Regions from separate parts of the Homo sapiens genome. Here region 1 is linked to region 2. Evidence: fine-mapped expression QTL. A gene starts in region 2. The other region holds a variant in brackets. All regions are shown on one strand. Distances are between the middles of the regions.

Region 1 (5,386 bases), 58 kb after region 2:
TTCTTTCTTCCTTTCCAATCAAGAGCAGAATGCTCATACATCAAGCATTTACTGAACGTTTACTATGTACCAGGAAATGTGTGCCTGACTGCCAGAAAGGCATTCTTTCTCTTGGTCCTGGAGAAAGTATCTCTGCCCTCAGACAAAGAAAACAGACCATTACAATCTCAAGTGATCAGTGCTTGAAACAATTAAGTCATGGTGGTGTACAGACGTTGAAGGGTATTTAAACTATCACCAACCCATCATTCATTCAACAAATATTTATGGAGTACCTAAAATGGGGAAAAACTGTAAGAGAAAAAAAAAACTGCACTTAAAGTACGCACAGGAATTATTCAGATGGAAAACATTAAAACAAGAAATTGCAAAGCGTAACACTTTAAAGCAAGTTAAGAATTTTAAAGACCTATAATTTTGCACCCTAAAATGACCAAAGGCTGGCACATTTTGTTATCTTCTATAAGAAACACATCATTGGATGCCACATGCAACGTGGCATCAGGTGTAAAAAAGCACCTGATGTGCTTTTTTTGCACATCAGGTCAGCAACCTTTTTATATCTGATTTGGAGACTATTAGTTTACTCGACTGTTACCATTTTGTGCTTAAAACAAACAGTATCATTAATTCACAAGCTTTGGAATTCTTTCTCTTTATTTTCTTTTCTCTACTTCCAACACTAATCAGTTCCTTGTTGCCCAAGCTGGAGTGCAGTGGCACAATCGTAGCTCACTGCCACTTCAAATTCCTGGGCTCAAGTAATCCTCCCACCTCAGCCTCCCAAGTAACTGAGGCTACAGGCATGTGTCACCACACCTGGCCCACTCATCTTTAAATAAGACAGAGAAGTAATTATAGCCAAAAGGGAATAGAAAATGCAAACCCAGAGATATAAGCAAGCAAGGAAGCCTGGAAAGCCTTTGTTGATCCTGAAAATTAGAATTTTGTTCTCACATAAACCAAAGCCCAGGGCTCTCACAAGACAAAAAGTCTAATAGGAGGCCCTCTTCATAAGGTGGGACTTCAGAGGCATACTTCCTAATGGTGAGAGTGACTAGGGAGTGGAAGATCCAGGGAGGAATTAAAGCCCTACTGAAGGGAATATCATATCTTAAGCTTGTTTTAAGGTGGTCTCTGGATTAGTGCCCATGCATACCTGATATAAGCAAGCTCTCCATGGAGGAAAGTACCTTACTGTGGGCCTCAAATGATCACTACAAATATCTATTTTTATTTTTATTATTTTTTATTTTTTTGAGACAGAGTCTCGCTCTGTCACCCAGGCTGGAGTACAGTGGCCTGATCTCAGCTCACTGCAAGCTCTGCTTCCTGGGTTCACGCCATTCTCCTGCCTCAGCCTCCCGAGTAGCTGGGACTACAGGAGTCCGCCACCACGCCCGGCTAATTTTTTTTTTTTTTTTTTTTTTAAGTAAAGACGGGGTTTCACCGTGTTAGCCAGGACGGTCTCGATCTCCTGACCTCGTGATCCACCCGCCTTGGCCTCCCAAAGTGCTGGGATTACAGGTGTGAGCCACCGCACCCAGCCAATTATTTATTTTTAAATACAATGTCCTAGCAGATCTCAAAAAACAAGAGGAAAAATATAGTGAAATCGTTGGATATACTTTTTTTTTTTTTTTTTTTTGCCACAAAGTCTTGTTCTGCCACCCAGGTTAGAGTGCAGTGGCACGATCTCAGTTCATTGCAACCTCTGCCTCCCAGGTTCAAGTGATTCTCCTGCCTCAGCCTCCAGAGTAGCTGGGACTACAGGTGCATGCCACCATGCCCGGCTAATTTTTGTATTTTTAGTAGTGAGGGGGTTTTGCCATGTTTTGGCCAGGCTGGTCTTGAACTTCTGACCTCAAGTGACCCGCCCATCTTGGCCTCCCAAAGTGCTGTGATTATAGGCGTAAGCCACCGTGCCCAGCCAGTTTGATATACTTTTAATTGGTACTAGCAGAAAAGAGAATGGGATAAAGGCAGTAACTGAAGACAGTTGAAAATATCCCAGAAGCAATCAGACACAATCAAATTCCAGAAGCAAACAATTTCCAAACAAGATCAATAAAAAGAAATCCAAAACCAAACATATAATTACAAAATAGCAGGAAAAAACAAAGATGAGTTGGGTGTAATGGCACAGGCCTATAGTCCCAGCTATTTGGGAGGCTGATACAGGAAGATTGCTTGTGCCCAGGAGTTGGAGGCCAGCCTGGGCAAAACAGCAAGACCTTGTCTCAAACAAAAACAAAAAACTAAAGACAAGCAAGTACAGAAAAAGGCAGATTATATTCAAAGAGCAACATTAGAACAGCTGATTTTTCAAAACCAACAATGAAGCCAAGTAGTTTAATACCTG[C/A]AGTGTGCTGAAAAAAATAAATAGCCGCCAAATTAAAATTCTGTTATCAAGCAAATGTCTCTAAAGAAAAAAGAAAAATAATCCCATTTTGGAAGGTCTGAGTTGAAAGAAAAAATAAAGAGCAAAAAAGAGGAAAATTTACAGACAGCTCCAAACAAACACTGATTATACAAAAGAATAACAATACCTTGAGGAGCTTTAAAACATAGAATACATAACAATAAAAACACAGTGTATTGAGGAGATTTCAAAGTATTCTTTCTAAAGGTCTTTTATTATATGAAAAGAAGATAAAATTATAATATCAGGTTTTGCTAAGTTATAGCTGCAAGTCACAAGATGTATGACAACTAATTACAGAATAAAAATAGCATATATTTCCAAACCAGAAAGAGGGAAAAGTAAAATCATAAAAAGAATCCAAAAGAATGTTAAGAAGGGAGAAGAAAAAAATCTAGAACATAAGAAGCATAGGGGAAGAAAGTTGAATTGGAATATGATTAATTATATTAAATATAAGTGGAATAAATTATCCAGGTAAAAGACAAAGACTATCATATCAGACTGGATTAAAAAAGAAATCCAAATGAACCAGAATAATCCAAACAATTCTGAAAAATAATAAAGCTGGAAGAATTATACTAACTGATCTTAAACTTATTACAAAGCTATAGTTGTCAAAACAGTGTATTGGCAAAAGGATAATACATAGATCAAGGGAACAGAATAAAGAGTACAGAAATACACTCACACAAACAAGGCCAATTAATTTTTGACAAAGGTACAAAGGCAGTTCAATGGAGAAAGGACATATATACATATATATATAAATATATTATGTATTTTTTTCGAGATAGGGTCTGCCTCTGGTGCCCACGCTGGAGTGCAGGGGCATGATCTCAACTCACTGCAACCTCCGCCTCCTGGGTTCAAGTGATTCTCCTGCCTCAGCCTCCAAAGTAGCTAGGACCACAGGAGTGTGTCACTATGCCCTGCTAATTTTTGTATTTTTAGTAGAGACAGGGTTTCACCATATTGCCTAGGCTGGTCTCAAATTTCTGAGCTCAACTGATCCACCTGCCTTGGCCTCCCAAAGTGCTGGGATTACAGGCATAATAATCTTTTCTATAAATTGTTTTGGAAGACTTGGAGATCAATATGCAAAATCATAAACTTTAATCTAAATCTCACACTTTATATAAAGATAATTCATAATGAATCACAGATATCAATGTAAAACTTGGGTCAGATGCGGTGGCTCATGACTGTATAATCCCAGGCTGGGTGACAAGGCAAGACTCTACCTCTGGGGGGGAAAAAAAAAGATATAAATGTAAAATTATCAAACCTTCTTGCAACCAGGGGTTAGGCAGAGTTTGAAGACATGACACTAAAAGCATGGGCTGTAAAACTGATAAACTGAACTTCATCAACGTTAAAATATTTCTGCTCTGTGAAAGACACTATTAAGAAAATAAGCCAGACACAAGAAGAATGTATTTGCAAATCACAAATCGAATAAAGAACTTGTATCTGTAACATTAAAAAACTCAATAAGAAAACAGCTCAATTTAAAAATGGGCAAAAGACGTGAACATACACACCACAAAAGAAGATATACACATAAGTATATGAAAAGATACACAACACTGCCAGACAGCAGGGAAAATGAAATTAAATCATACAACTACCACTACAGATTTATTAAAATGGCTAAAATTTAAAAAAACAGAAAACAAAACTATACCAAAAGCTGGTGTGGATGCAGAGTAACAGTAACTAATACATTCCTGGTAGGAATGCAAAATGGTTTTGGAAAACAGTTTGGCAGTTTCTTATAGAGTTAAACATGTACTTAAGCATACAACCAGCATTCCCACTCCTAGGTATTTACTCAAGAGAAACGGAAACCCGTATCTACACAAAAACTTATACACAAACATTTAAGGCAGCTTTATTCATAATTGTGAAAAAACAGAAACAACCAAGGTGTCCAACAGTTACATGAACAAACAAATGGTTTGCCATGTGATGCTTAGCAATAAAAAGGAACAAATTACTGATTTGTGCAACAAAATGGATGAATCGTTTTTCTTTTTTTGGTAGAGACAGGGTCTCGCTTTGTTGCCCAGGCTGGTCTCAAACGTCTAGCCTCAAGTAATCCTTTGGCTTCAGTCTCCCAAAGTGCTAGGATTACAGGTGTGAGCTGCTACACCTGACCAACATGGTGAATCTTAAAAGTGAAGAAGCCAGAAACAAAAGCCTACATATTGTATACTTCCATTTATATCAGGGGTCCCCAATCCCCGGGCCATGGGCCTGTACCAGTTCATGGCCTGTTAGGAACCAGGCTACACAGCAGGAGGTGAGCAGCGGGAGTCACTCGCATTACTGCCCGAGCTCTGCCTCCTGTCCCATCAGCAACAGCATTAGATTCTCATAGGAGAACCCTATTGTGAACTGCACATGTGAGGAATCTAGGAGGTGGAGCTCAATTTTTCTCCTTTAAGGAAAGGAAATAAGTAAGCATGGAAAGAGAGCCTAAATTTCTCCCTTTCCATGCTTATTCATTACAAGGGTATTCCTAAGTCCAATGGGCTTGGAAAGGGAGAAATAGCAACTCTACAGTAGAAAAACCTGGCAGACTTTACTGAAATATCACTAGTGTTAAGTCACTTTGACATCATATGCCCCTGATATAATGTGATGAGAAGGGCACTTCACCTCTGTGGTAGTCTTCTCAAAAATCCATAACCACAATTTAATCTTGAGAAAACATCAAACCTGTATTGAAGGACATTCTATAACATACATCACCAGTCTTCTTCAAAAGTTTCCAAGTAATGAAAATTAAAGACAGACTAAGAAGCTTCACAGACTGGAGGATACTAAGGAGACATGATGACTAAATTAATGTGGTATCCTGGACTGGCTCCTTGAACAGAAAAAGGATACAACTGGTAAAATCCAAACAAAGCCTGTAGTTTAGTTAATAGTATTATACCGATGTTAATTTCTTAATTA
Region 2 (5,386 bases):
ATTCCAAAGCTGATACCTTCCAAATTCCTTTATAGTAGAGGTCTTGGCTATCATAACCATGATGGAACGAATGACCGTCCTACAGCTGGCTGCAAAATATAAGACTGCTATAAATAAATCCCTGATGCCTGAAAAGTAATTCATTCAACAAAGGAAGATAGGTATGACTTTGGCCTACTCTTCATTAGAACGCTTATTTTTATTTATTTATTTATTTATTTATAAAGAGGGCAAAGCAGACTTTATTTGAGGGGCACCACAGCAATAGGTATAGCAACAACTGCAACAGGGTTTTGTAGTCAGGGAGGGAGATCAGACTCAACTCCCTAAAATGCTAATTTTAACAATGGGACACTTCATCTGAACTGTGGTTCTTAATGGTTCAGATAAAGATGACACAACCCACTATTGGCTTAAACTTCTCCCAACTCTGGCTACAGAATCCAGGTAAAGATTTCTGCCCCCTCAGAGTAATAGGCATGTCCAAAATCACCTGGATTAGGGCACTTAATACACTGGGAAGGGACGATAACAACTAAAGATGACCACTATCCATGCCTCCTCTAAAAGTTTTTTCATATATTTTTTCATATCACCAAAACAAATACTAACTTGGATCAACTAATTTATATAATGGAATCTCGTGTGAGCGTACAAAATTCCATACTGATTATTTGGTTTAAGCCTGCATTATCATAAAGGCTTTACAGTCTTTAAACTGAAATTAAGCTCAAATTAAGAAATGCTAGTCTTAAAACAATGGAAGGGGGGGGCCGTTTTGTGTGGAGGGAGGGAGACAGACATACCCCTACACCCACCCACAACTACTGATATTGACATTGGAAATTAACTTGAAAATTTATGCCTGTAGTCCCAGCTACTCAGGAGGCTGAGGTGGGAGGAGCACTTAAGTCCAGGAGTTGGGAGATGACAGTGAGCTTTGACTGTGACACTGCACTCCAACCCGGGTGACAGGGCAAGATCCCATCTCTCAAAAAAAAAAAAAAAAAATGCTTTAACTCCACGTCTGTACCAGAAGACCACAGCAGGAGAGGAAAACCTTATTTCAGTCTGGGTAAGAGTTCTATTAAACACAAAATAAAACAAACTAGCCTCTGTTTCTGGAGGTCTTCATTAGTAGTTTCTACAAAACAGTATCCAAATTAGCAAAGATTCTGTTAACTACCTGGAAAAAGCAGGTACCAAGAAAGAATGTTTCACTACAATGGAAAAAAACAGTCTAGTAAGTAAACCAATCTGACTATAAACGCTACAAAAGAGGGATTCTAGCATTAGTAACTTTGCCAACAATACTCTGATATGATTAAAAAACAAAACAATAACAAAAACAAAAAACCTCATCTTTAAATTTGTCCCATTCATCCAGAGAAGCAAAATCAAGGAAACTAGAGGGGGTAAAGTCTTGCAACAGATACACAGCTGCACTGCCAACAGGTCACAAGACCCATGCTGCCTAGGGCATTGACTGTTATGCCATGAGGACAGACATCACACAAACACCAGTAATTAAAGGGTTACGGTGCCAAAGGGTTCAGAGCTCCACTTCCATTCAGTATCAGAACATAAGAAAAAGGGAAAAACAGAAAATGAGCCCAAATAAAATATAAAATAAAATATAGATACCAGGAGCTTCCTCAAAATATGTGGGTTGTATTAATAACGTGTTTGGCTCTGTTACGGGCACCATCCATCAGAGGACTGGAAATAGGGAAAGTCACCTTAGTCTTCCTCAAGGAAAAAAGATTATTTAACTTGGTTCACGGTGTACATTCATAATTTTAACTGTCATGTATTTATTGAATGAAAAACATTTGAGAACATCATGTGCAACAAAAACATGATTTCACAGAAATTGTCCAAACTAAAAGAGTATAAAAATAGAAGCGCTTTTTATACAATTATTTACTTATTATTATTATTGAGATAGGGTCTCCATCTGTCACCCAGGCCGGAGTGCAGTGGCGCAATCATAGAGTAGCCTCTAAGTCCTGGGCTCAAGCGATCCTCCTGCCTCAGCCTCCAGAGTCGTTGGGATCACAGGCTCGAGCCTCCACACCCGACTAACTTTTAAAAACTTTTTGTAGAGATGAGGCCTCGCTGTGTTTCCCAGCCTGATCTCGAAATCCTGGCCTCAATCGATCCTCCAACCATGGCCTCCCAAAGCGCTGGGATTACAGGCGCGAGCCATGGTGCCCGGCCGCTTTTACACAATTGAATAACATTAAAATAGGTGGCAGAAGACAGACAGAAAGTCGATTCGTGGTTGCCAGGCGTCGTGAATACCGGGGAACGCGGAGTGCCTATTAATGGGTAAGGGTTTCGTTTTGGAATCAGACAGCGGCGATGGCTGCACAACTTTGTGAATTTTCTAAGAATCACTGAACTGTGCACCTTAAAGGAAGAACTGTGTGGTAATTACATCGGCGGTACGCGGGCAGCGCGTCAATCAAGCCGGCGACGGTGAATGCAGTTCGGGAGAGCTGATACCCCTCGGGGAGGCGGCTCCGGGAGCCTGCGGACGTGGCGGACGCCTGGGACGGGGTGGGCCTGGCCTCCGCGCTCGAGGAGTCCCAGTCCTCTCCAGATGGAAGAAAGCCGGGGCGCGAAGCCGCCGCCCGCTCTTCTGCCTGGGGACGCGACTCTGCCGCCAGGCTCCCTCGGGTCAGCTCGGCACCCGCCCGAGCCCCCCCAGTTCCAGGCCCTCTCCTCATCAGACGTGCCCTGGGCCCTCAGCCTGTTCCTCTCGCCGCCCGGAACCCCGCAGCAGCCCCGGGTCCCCAGCCCGCGCCCCTCCGGCGCCGCCTCCGCCAGCTGCCCCTGCCCCCCGGGCCGCCCTCGCAGGCCGCTCCCGGCGCCCCGGTCGGCTTCCGTACCTGCCTTCTCCGCGCCGCCGTCCCAGTGGCCGGAGGTGGGGCCGTCGCCCTGCGCACTCCGGAGGGCCATGCCCCGGGGCCCCGGGCCCCCACCCGAGCCCCGGCTGGTGGCGGAGCCGGGAGAAGACGCGGCTCCGACCGCGGGACGTAGCACCCGCTCGGCATCGGCAGGCTCCCCTCCGTCGGCCAGCGGCGCGCAGGCGCGCAGGCGCCCCGCTGGCCCCGCCCCGCGCCGGCACGTGACCCTGCGCTACGCCCGGCCGGCGGCGGGGGAGGCTGCGGAAAGAGCGCGGTGAGCGCTCTGAGGAGTTGGCTTCGTCTGCGCTGTAGACTCTACGGTGTAGAGTGTGGCGCTCTTGAGCGAGTGTGCTCGAGACCAGCTGTCGTTTCCTTTGCTTCTTTCATCTGTAAAATAGTATTGATGATAATAAAAATATTGAACTCACAAGGTTATTGAGAGTGTTTAGAACATCACCAAGCATATAGTAAATACTCCACAATTATGACCAATTTTTGCTTACCAAGGATTATTTTTTTACCTCCTGTCTCGTCTCCCCACACGAACTCCTGTCATCAGTTCTTGGGTACTTGGGGATCTAGCAGGTTCATGTCATACGGGTCCGCAGGTTATGCACTGCACAAGGCCTGGGAGCGCCATTTACGTAGACGTTCACGTGAACCGTGCCCCCTTAAGTTGTGCGAAATAGTGGCCACTCATCTAAAGCAGCGCTCTGGCTTATCAGGTCTGATTTCCTTCTCGTCTTCAGTGATATTCCTTTCTTTCCAATTAGACATCCATTCCCTTGGTTATATCCCTGATATTGTGATTGTGGCCTCCCGAATTTCTAGTGCTAGGTCTTCATGCTGAAGTTCCCATAATTCCAGTTGCTTGATGACTCTCTTCCACCTCCCACCCCCAACCACAACAGTTCTTTATTATCCTGAGACCTCCAGCCCATGAAACTCCTGACCTCGTGATCCGCCCGCCTCAGCCTCTCAAAGTGCTGGGATTACAGGCGTGAGCCACCGCGCACAGCCAAGTTTTACAGTTCTATTCATAAATCTAGTAAATTATATCAGTTATTTGGTCCCATTAATAAACTAAGCTAATTAAAATCCTTTGAACATTTGAAACTGCATTTATAAATTCAATTCGTTTTTCTAAGTATCACAGGTTTCTAACAAAGCCTTTCAAGTCCTTGTGTAATTCTTGTAAATGTAATACATTTATAAGAATACTGAGTCATGAGTGCTTTCAAATGTGTCAATACAAACGAGATTTCATCTTAAAATCAAAAGTCTAAATCTATTCAAATACATATTTGTAATTAGTACAAGAATAATCTGTTAGAATTCTCAAAATTATCTTTTTTTTTTTTTTGAGACAGAGTCTCACTCTATCACCCAGACTGGAGTGCAATAGCGATCATAGCTCACTGCAGCCTCAAGCTCCTGGGCTCAAGCTAGCCTCCTGTTGCAGCCTCCCGAGTAGCTGAGACTGTAGGTACACACTACCATGCCTGGCTAGTTTTTTTAGTTTTTATAGAGGGGGTGGGGAATCTCCCTATGTTGCCCAGGCCGGTCTCAAACTGCCTTCGCCTCCCAAAGCTCTGGGATTACAGGCGTGAATCACAGTGCCAAGCTCTTGAAATTATCTTGAACATTATAGGAATTTAAAGTATCACATTTACACAGATGCCTTAATGCAAAATTATTAATACTAGAAGTTTGAAAACATTTCTAGTCTTTGTTCTAAATCATCTGTGAGGCTCATGCCTGTAATCCCAGCACTTTGGGAGGTGAAGGGCTGCAGATCACTTGAGGTCAGGAGTTCAAGACCAGCCTCACCAACATGGTGAAACCCCATCTCTACTAAAAATACAAAAATTAGCTGGGCATGGTGGTGCCTGCCTGTAATCCCAGCTACTTGGGAGGCTGAGGCAGGAGAATTGCTTGAACCTGGGAGGCAGAGGTTGCAGTGAGCCAAGATTGCGCCACTGCACTCCAGCCTAAGAGACGGAGTGAGACTCCATCTCAAAAAATAAATAAATAAAATGAAATAAATCATCATTGAGGTTAAAAGATGCTTAGTGCCCACTGAAGGAAGATTTAAGTCATCCCAGTTTAAGAGTAACGTGCTCAAGCAATTTGAGATATTTATTCCCTTCTCAGTTTACTGCGCTGGTCATCCAGCCAGCTGGATTCTTGCTTTTGGTAGTGATGGAACAGTGACCCCCACCCCATTCCCACCACCACAACTCTAGGACTAAACAGTTGTGTGGTCGTTGTGAAGCTTGGGCCAGAATTTACTTTCAAAAAATGTCCCGCTTCATGTATAATATAAAGACCTTACAATAAATTCCCATTTCTTCCCTCCTGTTCTTCTTGCTGTTGTCCTACATTTTACTTTTTAAAATCCCTTCCTTCTCTTGCTTTCTCCCCTCTACCCACCAACCACTTGCAAACAACCACTGATCTACATCCTGTCACTA

The links. PIP is the estimated chance that this variant, and not a neighbour inherited with it, causes the effect.
Region 1: its variant is the best candidate, but not a certain one, in a credible set for the expression of TBC1D20 in whole blood (INTERVAL, PIP 0.65).

The regions. Positions count from the first base shown.
Region 1 is chr20:517,306-522,691 of GRCh38, forward strand. The region is part of intron 2 of CSNK2A1 (casein kinase 2 alpha 1); the gene reads right to left. Among named protein-coding and RNA genes, the nearest start is that of CSNK2A1, 24 kb to the right of the region's middle. The variant C/A (reference allele first, on the strand shown) is at 2,363.
Region 2 is chr20:459,442-464,827 of GRCh38, forward strand. TBC1D20 (TBC1 domain family member 20) reads right to left here and starts at 3,092. Exons shown (of 8, transcript NM_144628.4): 1 at 2,895-3,092. The coding sequence starts at 2,964. RefSeq lists silencers at 2,475-2,623, 2,692-3,181, 3,462-3,531.